3 linked regions of the Homo sapiens genome follow. Changing the gene in region 2 together with the main gene of any one other region gives a genetic interaction. Each region holds a gene or a part of one and is shown on either strand. Other genes may lie near its edges. The genes, in order: FLT3, GLB1L3 and SPPL3.

The links.
Region 1: changes in GLB1L3 (region 2) and FLT3 together harm fitness less than expected from each alone (positive genetic interaction), as found in Homo sapiens cells (one study listed by BioGRID).
Region 3: changes in GLB1L3 (region 2) and SPPL3 together harm fitness less than expected from each alone (positive genetic interaction), as found in Homo sapiens cells (one large-scale study listed by BioGRID).

Annotation. Positions count from the first base shown.
Region 1 is NC_000013.11:28,093,922-28,097,576, reverse strand, and holds part of FLT3 (receptor-type tyrosine-protein kinase FLT3 precursor), read left to right. Parts: intron 1-3,655. UniProt on the Homo sapiens protein: Tyrosine-protein kinase that acts as a cell-surface receptor for the cytokine FLT3LG and regulates differentiation, proliferation and survival of hematopoietic progenitor cells and of dendritic cells.
Region 2 is NC_000011.10:134,317,120-134,320,117, forward strand, and holds the end of GLB1L3 (beta-galactosidase-1-like protein 3), read left to right. Parts: intron 1-1,511; coding exon 1,512-1,628; coding exon of another isoform or gene 1,629-1,664; exon of another isoform or gene 1,665-1,680; intron 1,681-1,757; coding exon 1,758-1,823; 3' UTR 1,824-2,445; downstream 2,446-2,998.
Region 3 is NC_000012.12:120,768,320-120,771,974, reverse strand, and holds part of SPPL3 (signal peptide peptidase-like 3), read left to right. Parts: intron 1-2,915; coding exon 2,916-3,022; intron 3,023-3,486; coding exon 3,487-3,650; intron 3,651-3,655.

The sequences.
Region 1 (3,655 bases), on a different chromosome or scaffold from region 2:
GTCTATCTATAGTAAATTATCCTCTTAGGTTTAATTGTGAACTTCTTGCCTTACATTAAAAATGGATTAACTTTTTATAACTAAGAAGGCACTTTCAGTAACTCTTAGCTATTGGTAAATATTTGTTATTGGATTCTCCTGTTGTTTAAACTGAAAAACAATCAGGCAATGAGATATTAAATGGGAAGGAGGAAGACTTACTTATATTCCAAGGGAAGACTTCAGATAAGAAAAATGAAGAGAAAACATGCATTAGGAAGAAAAAATCTGTTTTTATTTAACAAACTTTAATTGAATACCCATTTTTTTCCTTCCTTCCTTCTTTCCTTCCTTCCTTTCTTTCTTTCTTTTTCTTTCTTTCTTTCGACAGTCTCCCTTTGTCATTGAGGCTGGAGTGCAGTGGTGTGATCACAGCTCACTGCAGCTTCAACCTCCTGGGCTCAAGCAAGCCTCCTACCTCAGCCTCCTGAGTACCTGGGACCACAGGCACGTGCCACCACACCTCATTAATTTTTTGAAAAATTTTTTGGTAGAGATGAGATCTCACTGTATTGCTCAGGCTAATCTTGAACTCCTGGGCTCAAGTGATCCTCCCAAAGTGCTAGGATTACAGGTGTGAGCTACCGTGCCTGACAGAATACCTATTTCTTGCTAGGCACAAGCAGTACAAAGATTAAAGAGATGGAGGTAGGGGAACTTGTGTATAAATAACCAATTTTATTTTTTTAAGAAATGTGTGGTCATTGCCTTTCCCCAGGAAAAGTATTTCAGTATGCTTTCTTTTATTAAACCTTCCAACACAGTTATTATGATTACTAAATATACATTAAAAATTGCATGAGTCTGGCTGGGTGCGATGGCTCATGCCTGTAATCCCAGCACTTTGGGAGGCTGAGGCAGGCAGATCACTTGAGGAGTTTGAGACCAGCCTGGCCAACATGGTGAAACCCTGTTTCTACTAAAAATACAAAAGTTAGCCAGGCGTGGTGGCAGACGCTTGTAATCCCAGCTACTTGGGAGGCTGAAGCAGGAGAATCACTTGAGCCTGGGAGGCAGAGGTTGCAGTGAGCCAAGATTGCGCCATTGCACTATACCCTTGGTGACAGAGTGCGACTCCATCTCAAAAAAAAAAAAATTGCATGCGTCAATGAAGGAAGCTTTAGCCTGGTCAGAAAAGGGATCCCAGTTTTTTGCCCCCTAAAACTACTTTTTAAATTTTTTTTGAGACAAGACCTGGCCCTATCACCCAGGCTGGAGTGCAGTGGTACAGTCTCGGCTCACTGCAACCTCTGCCTTACGGACTCAAGCAAGCCTCCTACCTCAACCTCCTGAGTTGTGGGACTACAGGCATGCACCATGACACCCGACTAATTTTTGTATTTTTTGTAGAGATGGGGTTTCACTGTATTGTCTAGGCTGGTCTTGAACTCCTGAGCTCAAGCAATCCTCCTGCCTCAGCCTCCCAAAGTGCTGGGATTACACATGTGAGCCAGTGCGCCCAGCCTAAAACTACTTAAAAATGGAGATATAGTACTGTATTTAATGCTTATGGGAAAGAAAATGCTCTTCCATTTAAAGTAAAAGGAACAAACTGTTCCAAAGCTAAATATGGTCATCTTTTAGGTCTTGGGAAGAAGCACTTTTCCAAATCATTCTTTAAGCAAAGGTATTGACCACATTTTACTCTGGGAGGGTATTCCTGCTCATTTGAGAAGCCCACAAAATGCCTCGGCTTCAACAACATATCCACGGTTCTTTGTGTTCCTCTCATCTCATCCTTGCATGACACTCGGCAAGCAGGGTGACAGTAACTAACCCCTATCATTCAAGTTCAAGATTACAGTCTTGCTGCCTCCCCACATACCTACCAGACATTGCCTTAATCTTTGGGCAAAGATTTTGATTTGACAAAAAGCAAATAATCTCAAGAGTATTGTATTTTATCATTTTTCTTAACTTTGAAAGGGATCTTGTAGATAACAGGAGTAAGAATTTGGAGAGGGGGCCGGGCAAGGTGGCTCATGCCTGTAATCCCAGCACTTTGGGAGGCCAAGGTGGGCAGATCACGAGGTCAAGAGATCAAGACCATCCTGGCCAACGTGATAAAACCCTGTCTCTACTAAAAATACAAAAATTAGCTGGGTGTGGTGGCGCACGCCTGTAGTTCCAGCTACTCAGGAGGCTGAGGCAGGAGAATCACTTGAACCTGGGAGGTGGAGGTTGCAGTGAGCCGAGATCATGCCACTGCATTCCAGCCTGGAGACAGAGCGAGACTCCTTCTCAAAAAAAAAAGAGAGGGGAAACTGAAGGGCTGGAAATTGGCTTAGCTTGGTCTTGACACTGTGCTGTATCCTTTATTCCCTCTGAAATAGCAAATTCTTGTGAACTTCACAGTAGGTGGTTTGTCTGAGTAGAGCTTTTTGGTTTTTTGTTTTTTCTTATATACCCAGACTGCTCACCTGCAAGCTTTTTGGTTTTTATCAGGAGACTTTGTGATCTTAAGATGTTTTTCTATGACTTCCAGAAAAGCTGTATCCACTTCTCAGGTAGTCACAGTTATAGGGTCGAAGATTTTTCTGTCTTTGGGGAATCTGCGAGTTTTATACCTAAGTGATTTAGTTATTCTTGGTTGATACTTTCTATGGCTGCATTATCAGTGGTTTTGAAGTAATGAAAGCTTTTGTAGAAGTCACTACTGGTCACTAATTTGACTCACGCAATTCTGTTCTATGAGTACCAACACATGTGAAGGAAATTTTAAAATAATATAAAAGTAGGCAGAGTGCAGTGGTTCACACCTGTATCCCCAGCACTTTGGGAGGCCTAGGTGGGAGGATCACTGGAGCCCAGGAGTTCAAGACCAGCCTGGGCAATACAGCGAGACCCAGTCTCTACAAAAAAATTTAAAAATTAACTGAGCGTAGAGGCACATGCCTGTAGCCTCAGCTACTCAGGAGGCTGAGATAAGAGGATAGCTTGAGCCCAGGAATTTGAGGCTGCAGTGAGCTACGACCATGCCACTGTACTCTAACGTGGGTGACAGAGCAAGATGCTATCTCTAAAAAAAGAAAAAAGAAAGGAAAAAAATATATAAAGTGCACACAGTGTTCTTTTGTGGCCACAGAAATTGCATAAGATCCTAAAAGAGGAACCATTTTTTTTTAGGTTAAACAGTAAAAAAATATACATTTTTTTACTGCTGTCATTATAAGGTCAATTGGTAGCCAAGAATCTTCCATACAATTATTTACAGTCTATGCTAAAGCAGGCTTTAGTGTATAAGACAGTGTATAAGATAGTCACTGAATTCGGTCTTGGAATATTTTGTTATTTGAGTTATGCTTTTCCTAATGTTTGATATTATGTTCTTGGAGGTAATGCCCATAGATATATTAGGACTAAAAACACATTTAAGAAACGTGCTGTTTTCTGTGGCAGAGAATGTCTCTGCACTTAAGTTCCTCATTTGTAAAAAGGAGATAAGCAGTATCTTACTCCTTCATCAGATAATACTTGTAAAGCACAGCTGCACTCCTTGTTAGGCACGTGTTTTGCAGAAAGAAAAATATATGAAGTCTGAAGACATTAGGATTTGGAGTCACAAGATTTGCCTGCCTCTCTCCTTCCCTCCCTTCTTTTTTAATTCCCTCCCTCC
Region 2 (2,998 bases):
GGTACTGTTTAAGTTCCTTTCTTTTCAAGTTGAAGGACTTCCTTTAGCACTTCTTGTAAAGCAGGTCTAGTGGCGATGAACTCCCTCAGTTTTTGTCTGGAAGTCTTTATCTCTTATTCATTTTTGAAAGACAGTTTTGCTGGATGTAGTATTCTTGGTTGCCAGTTGATTTTTCTTTTAGCATTTTAAATATATCGGTCCATTCCACGCTAGCCTGCAAGGTTTCTGCTGAAAAATCTGCTGATAGTCTTATACCCTACAAGTTTCTATCAATTTTATCATCATCATCAAAGAATTCAAATATTTTCCAACTTCCTTTGTCATTACTTGTTAGATTTATGGTTTATTTAGAAGTGCTTTTCTTAATTTCCAAGAATTTGGATATTTTAGGGTTATCTTTTTTATCAGTTTCTTTCTTAAATGCATTATAGTCTGAGAAGTTTATGTGAAGACTAGTTTAATACAGGATCAAGCTTGTAAATATTCTGAGGTATACTTGAAAGAATATGTGTATACTGTAGATGTTAGATCAATGTTCTATTATGTCAATTAGTTCAATTTTGTTAATCATCTTCTTTTAAATGTTTTATGTCTTTATTGATTGTTATTTGCTTTGCCTATTGACTATTGAAAGGTTGTATAAAAATTTCCCGCTATGGTTGTAAATTTATTTATTTCTCTTCTGTCAATTTCGCTGATATGTTTTGAATCTCTGCTTTTATCTTTCTTATGTATGTTGTATATACATTTTTGGTAAATTAAGAATTTTACCATCATGAAATGTCCCTCTTTATCTCTAATAATGCTTCTTGCCTTAAAGTATTATTTTTCTGAATATTAACAGAGCTATAGCAACTTCCTTTTGGTTAGGGTTTACATATCATTATCCATTGTTTTTCTTTTATTTTTCCAATGCCTTATGTTTTTGATGCTTCTCTTATATGTAGCATATAACTACTTTATTTGAAATCAAGACCAGCAACCTTTGCCCTTTAATTTGAAGCATTTCAGAGACTCCAATTTTATGTGCTAGACTGTTTTGTTATATCCCAGAATAAGCAGGTGCCTCTAGTGGAAAAACTGCCTAGATGTCTCCTTGTCTCTCCATTTTCTTCTTCTAGATCTTGATCCTGTAATTCTTCATTATATTGCAAGCAGATTTTTAAAAATGTGCAGCTTTTATATTAATAGCCACTGTCAGCAGTGGTGTTCATCACTATTACCTGATATTTATTTCTGGAAGTAGAAGATCTGCTTTTTAAAATATATAACATTATATATCACATAACAGGAACAATAGCAGCCTTACCATTAAAGGGTTGGTTCTATTTATGCTTTTCTCTTTCATTCCTAGACAGCAAGGTAGAAGTTCTATAACATATCCCACTCTAAACTCACCTTCATTTGAGTGCCATAAAGTATCTCAATCTTGCTCTCACTCTCCAAGTGCCTTAGGTTTTACCTTGCTAATGTGAACCAATTTCCAAATCTCAAGCCACCATTCCTTTCAGAACTGGAATTATGGATTTGTGTTCATCAATGGACGTAACCTTGGGCGATATTGGAATATTGGGCCTCAGAAAACACTGTACCTTCCTGGAGTTTGGCTTCATCCAGAAGACAATGAGGTATGTCACTCCAGTCTCTGCCTTGAGATCTCATAAACTTTCAGATCAAAATGTGAGTTGCAGTGTCTTTTTCAACCTGTACTAAATAGGCTTCACCTTTCCCACTGTCAACCTTTCTTTTCTTCTCAGGTCATCTTGTTTGAGAAGATGATGAGTGGCTCAGATATCAAATCTACAGACAAGCCCACGCTGTAAAACTGTGTCTGAACATTTTTTTTTTTTTTTGAGATGGAGTCTCACTTTGTCGCCCAGGCTGGAGTGCAGTGGCACAATCTCTGCTCACTGCAAGCTCAGCCTCTCGGGTTCACGCCATTCTCCTGCCTCAGCCTCCCCAGCAGCTGGGACTACAGGTGCACGCCACCACGCCTGGCTAATTTTTTGTATTTTTAGTAGAGATGGGGTTTCACCAAGTTAGCCAGGATGGTCCCAATCTCCTGACCTTGTGATCTGCTCTCCTCAGCCTCCCAAAGTACTGGGATTACAGGCGTGAGCCACCACTCCCGGCCGTGAACATATTTTTTGGGTTGCTGGAGTTCATCTATAAGTCATTTTTGAGGAATAAGATTTATGTTAAGACTATCAAACACAGTGTTGCCTACAATAGCAAAAATGTGAAAATAACAACAACAACAAAACAGCAGAGGAATTGTTATGTATTTTGTAGTCTATCTATATGATGCCTATTTTTAGGCTTTAAAAAGTCTTCAAAATCTTTAATGACTGATTTATCTAGTTAAATGCTTAATCCTTAGCAGGCTCTTATTCTTTAATTAAACGTGCCTTTGAGTAGATGTGAATAAAATAAAAACAAGTTTCATTTCTGCCTCCCATACTCAATTGAAGGGAAGGGAAAGGTCTGAAGCCTGGGGAAGAGTAAGGATACTGATTTCCTCATGCCAGAGAGAGTATTGCATGTACTAATGGGCAAACTCACGGTCTCCCTCCTCTCTCTCTCTCTCTCTCTCTCTCTCTGTGTATGTGTGTGTGTGTGTGTGTGTGTGCGCGCGCGCGTGCATGTGTGTGTGTGTATGTAGGAGTAGGGGAAAGGAGAGGGCAATGAACAATGTCTTTCATTTCCCTTCAACTATGTGTCTACAAGGTGACCCTGCATGTCACATCTAATCAGAGAAGGAACAGAAATTTGGTCATTTGCTTCAGACACGTGTGACAACAAAGCTAGCGCAGGGTTCTCTGTGTCTTCTTACTCCCTGTCTATCTGGCTATAGTCAAGGCTACTACTGATAGTGGGTAGGCATTAGTGAGATTAGCCACACACACATGAATATTCCAACCACTATGAAAAGCCAGTGGAGCCATTTGAAAAAAATGGCACCATTGGGAACCAAGCACTTTCTTATATACAAAACACA
Region 3 (3,655 bases), on a different chromosome or scaffold from region 2:
CTGACCTGGCTCTTCCAGAATGAGGATGGATTTTCCATATGAAGGAGCCGGGGGCAGGACCTTCTGGGTAGAGCGTGAAAAGAACACAGTATGTGTGGAGAGCGGGAAATTGTGTTGAACTGTCTAGAAAACAGAGCCACAGGAATGCGTGTTGAGGGCTTGGGCTGTACAGTGGAGAGTGCCCTCCCTGGCCAGGGAGTTGGACATTCATCCCACCACAAGACCCCATGAAGAGTTTCTCAACAGCTCTGTGTCCTCATCAAACCTGTGTTTGCAGAACAGTGGAGGAAGAGAGCTGAAGGAGGGGAGAGGCCCTGCACCTGCCAGGCCCTGGCCTAGACTACAAGGGTGAGCACTGAGCCATGCTCTCGGGGAACCTTCACTGGAGTTGAGGGCAGTGAGAATGTTTAAAAAAAAGAAGAAATTATGTATATCAGAAGTTGAGAAATGAAAAATAAGACAAGGGCAGGAAGTATGATCTTAAATGTAATTGCAGGAAAGTCCACCTGTCATTGAGAAGCTAGTACTTGCGTGAAGAACTGTGAAAGACGAGGAGCGGAGCCAGTTGGGTTCTGGGAGGAGATCGTTCAGGCAGAGGGCACAGTAAATGCAGAGCACTGAAGCGGCGGCGTGGCCGAAGCGGCGGCATGGGGGGTAGAGTGAGGAGGCTGCTGTGGCTGGCAAAGGAAGTAGCAGGAGGTGACCTGAAGGGTCACCGTCACAGCAGGACCTTGTCAGCCAGTATGAAGACTGTGGCTTTTACTCTATGGGAAGTTGTTTAAGAGTTTTGAGCTAGGGGCCCCATAAAACCTGCCTTAGGGTTTAAGAAGCTGCTTCTGTCTGCACTGTGAAGAAGAGACTTGTTAGGGGTTAAGTTGGAGGCAGAGAGGCCAGGGAGGAGGTCATTGCAGCAATGCACGCCAGGAGAGGATGGCGGCTTAAGCCAGGCAGGGTGTAAAAGAGAGACGGGTCAAAAACGACATCACAGATTTCCGTCTGCACAATTGGAAGCAAAGAGTAAATGCTTGGAGACAGAAGACTGCACTGTTAAGAGCTGAGTTTGGACATGTTAGATTTGAGAGGCCAACTAGACAGCCAAGTATATATGTCTCTTAGGCCACAGGATGTATGAGTCTGGAGCTCCAAGAAGAGATTCAGGCTGGAAATTAAAATGTGTGAGTTGATGACATATAAGATAGATAGTGTCAAGAGCCTTGAGATTGGACGAGATCACTGAGAGAGGAAAAGATCTGAGGAAAGGCCCGTGGAGTTCTGGGAATTGAGGAGGAGCTACAGAGAAGCCTGAAAAGGCCAGTGAGTGGGGAGGAACAGGAGAGCACATTGTCCTGAGAATCAAGGGAAAAGGAGGGAGCCATTAGCTGGGCGGGTTGCTGCCTAAAGGTCGGGTAAGAGGAGGACAGGTCGATTACTGTGTCTAGCAATGAGGGGATCCTTGGCAAGCCCCCAGGAGCAGTGTCAGTGGAGTAGCAGGGATGAAAGCCCTGCTGGAAGTGATCGAGCACTCAAATGATAACATCTAATTTATGGGAAATATATGGGATAGAGGAAAAGCCAACCACTGCAATAGAGAAGCACAGAAAAATCCAGATGACTCCAGTTTCAGCAAGTCATTAAAAAAAGGACTTTAGGCTGGGCATGGTGGCTCACACCTGTAATCCCAGCACTTTGGGAGAACAGGGTGAGAGGATTGCTTGAGATCAGCCTGGGCCACATAGCAAGACCTCATCTCTACAAAAAATACAAAAATTATCCAGGTGTGGTGGCACATGCCGGTGGTCCCAGCTACTCAGGAGGCTGAGTATTGCTTGAGCCCAGGAGGCAGAGGCTGAAGTGAGCCAAGATCGCATGACTGCACTCCAGCCTGGGCAACAGGGCAAGACCCTGTCTCAAAAAAAATAAAAGTGGTGGGGTGGACTATGTCAGATTGGAAACCAGCACAGACAAACCATCTGCAAAAGATGTTTTGGGGTCTATAGAGAAATTTGATTAAATGAGGTGAAAATTCACCCAAATGGAAACTGGGGGTTGTTGGCTTTGGTGGAGGGGGGGAACAGATTGTGTGATCTCATTAGATTAAAAAAAAAAAGTATGTAAAAAATTATTGGCTGGGTGCAGTGGCTCATGCCTGTAATCCCAACACTTTGGGAGGCCAAGGCAGGTGGATCACCTGAGGTCAAGAATTCGAGACCAGCCTGGCCAACATGGTGAAACCCCATCTCTACTAAAAACACAAAAATTAGCTGGGCGTAGTGGTGGGTGCCTGTAATCCCAGCTACTCGGGAGGTTGAGGCAGGAGAATCATTTGAACTCAGGAGACAGAGGTTGCAGTGAGTCGAGATTGTGCCACTGCACTCCAGCCTGGGTGATACAGCGAGACTCCATCTCCAAAAAGAAAAACAAAATTCTAGGAAGATATTGAACAGTGGTAATCTCTGAAAAGTGGGAATGTAATTTTTTTATTTTGCTTTACTGTATTCTCTAGTTTTCTATAACGCAGTTAATGAATTGCTGGGATGATGCCTCCAGTGAATGAAAGGGGGTGCTATCTAGGGTGTGAGTTCACTTTAAAGCAGGGAGCAAGGACAACACATCCACAACATTGGAGGGAAGGCAGGAAAAGAGAGCTTGGAGGTCTTGGACTGGTTTCCTGGGTCTCCAACAGCCGAGCACTATGTCTAGGAGGAGGAAAGCAATCACCCCAAATTCCACAAGTCCAAACAGGCTGAAGAAGCGGGTGTTTTGCACCAGTTGCATGTAAGTTTCTGAAGCTGGAGCTTAGGGCTGCCTGATTTTTGAGGGAATTGCAAACTCTGTGAAGGGCCATAGCTTGTGGAAAGAGGATGAGCCTGGAGTCCACACTGACTGCTGTCTGCTGTACCCTGTCTCCTCCCCAGCACTGGCCATGGGCCTCTGTGTCGCCATGATCGCCTTTGTCCGCCTGCCGAGCCTCAAGGTCTCCTGCCTGCTTCTCTCAGGGCTTCTCATCTATGATGTCTTTTGGGTAAGCGTTTATGTCCTTGGAGCTCCTCCCCTTCTTTGTGTTGAAGTGAAGCATTCATGCCTGAAAACTATTAACTAGAAGTATCCAAAGTCGGGCTTGCCCAGCTGCTGATCACTCTCTCTCCAGTCCTTAACTGTATCATGGGTGTGCAGTCCGATCCTTTTGTTTGCTGAAAAGTCGTACAGTAGGTAGTGTGTGTGTGTGACTCCTAGGATAGAAGAGGTAACAGGCTGACAAGATTCGCTGCAGTGGGGGCCACCCCGTCAGGGAGTAATCTCTGGGTGTGGAGAGTGCAGAAATTGGCAAGTACACAGGAAGAGCAAAGATTTTCTCAAATCATACAGTCAACGAAAGCATTGCAGTCACAGCATTCTGAGACTCTGCTCTTAAGAGCAAGGAGGGCTGATGCTGAAAGCAGGTTGCTTCCAACTCCCTCTGTTAAAGGCATCTCTCCAACTCGGCAGGTATTTTTCTCAGCCTACATCTTCAATAGCAACGTCATGGTGAAGGTGGCCACTCAGCCGGCTGACAATCCCCTTGACGTTCTATCCCGGAAGCTCCACCTGGGGCCCAATGTTGGGCGTGATGTTCCTCGCCTGTCTCTGCCTGGAAAACTGGTCTTCCCAAGGTAAG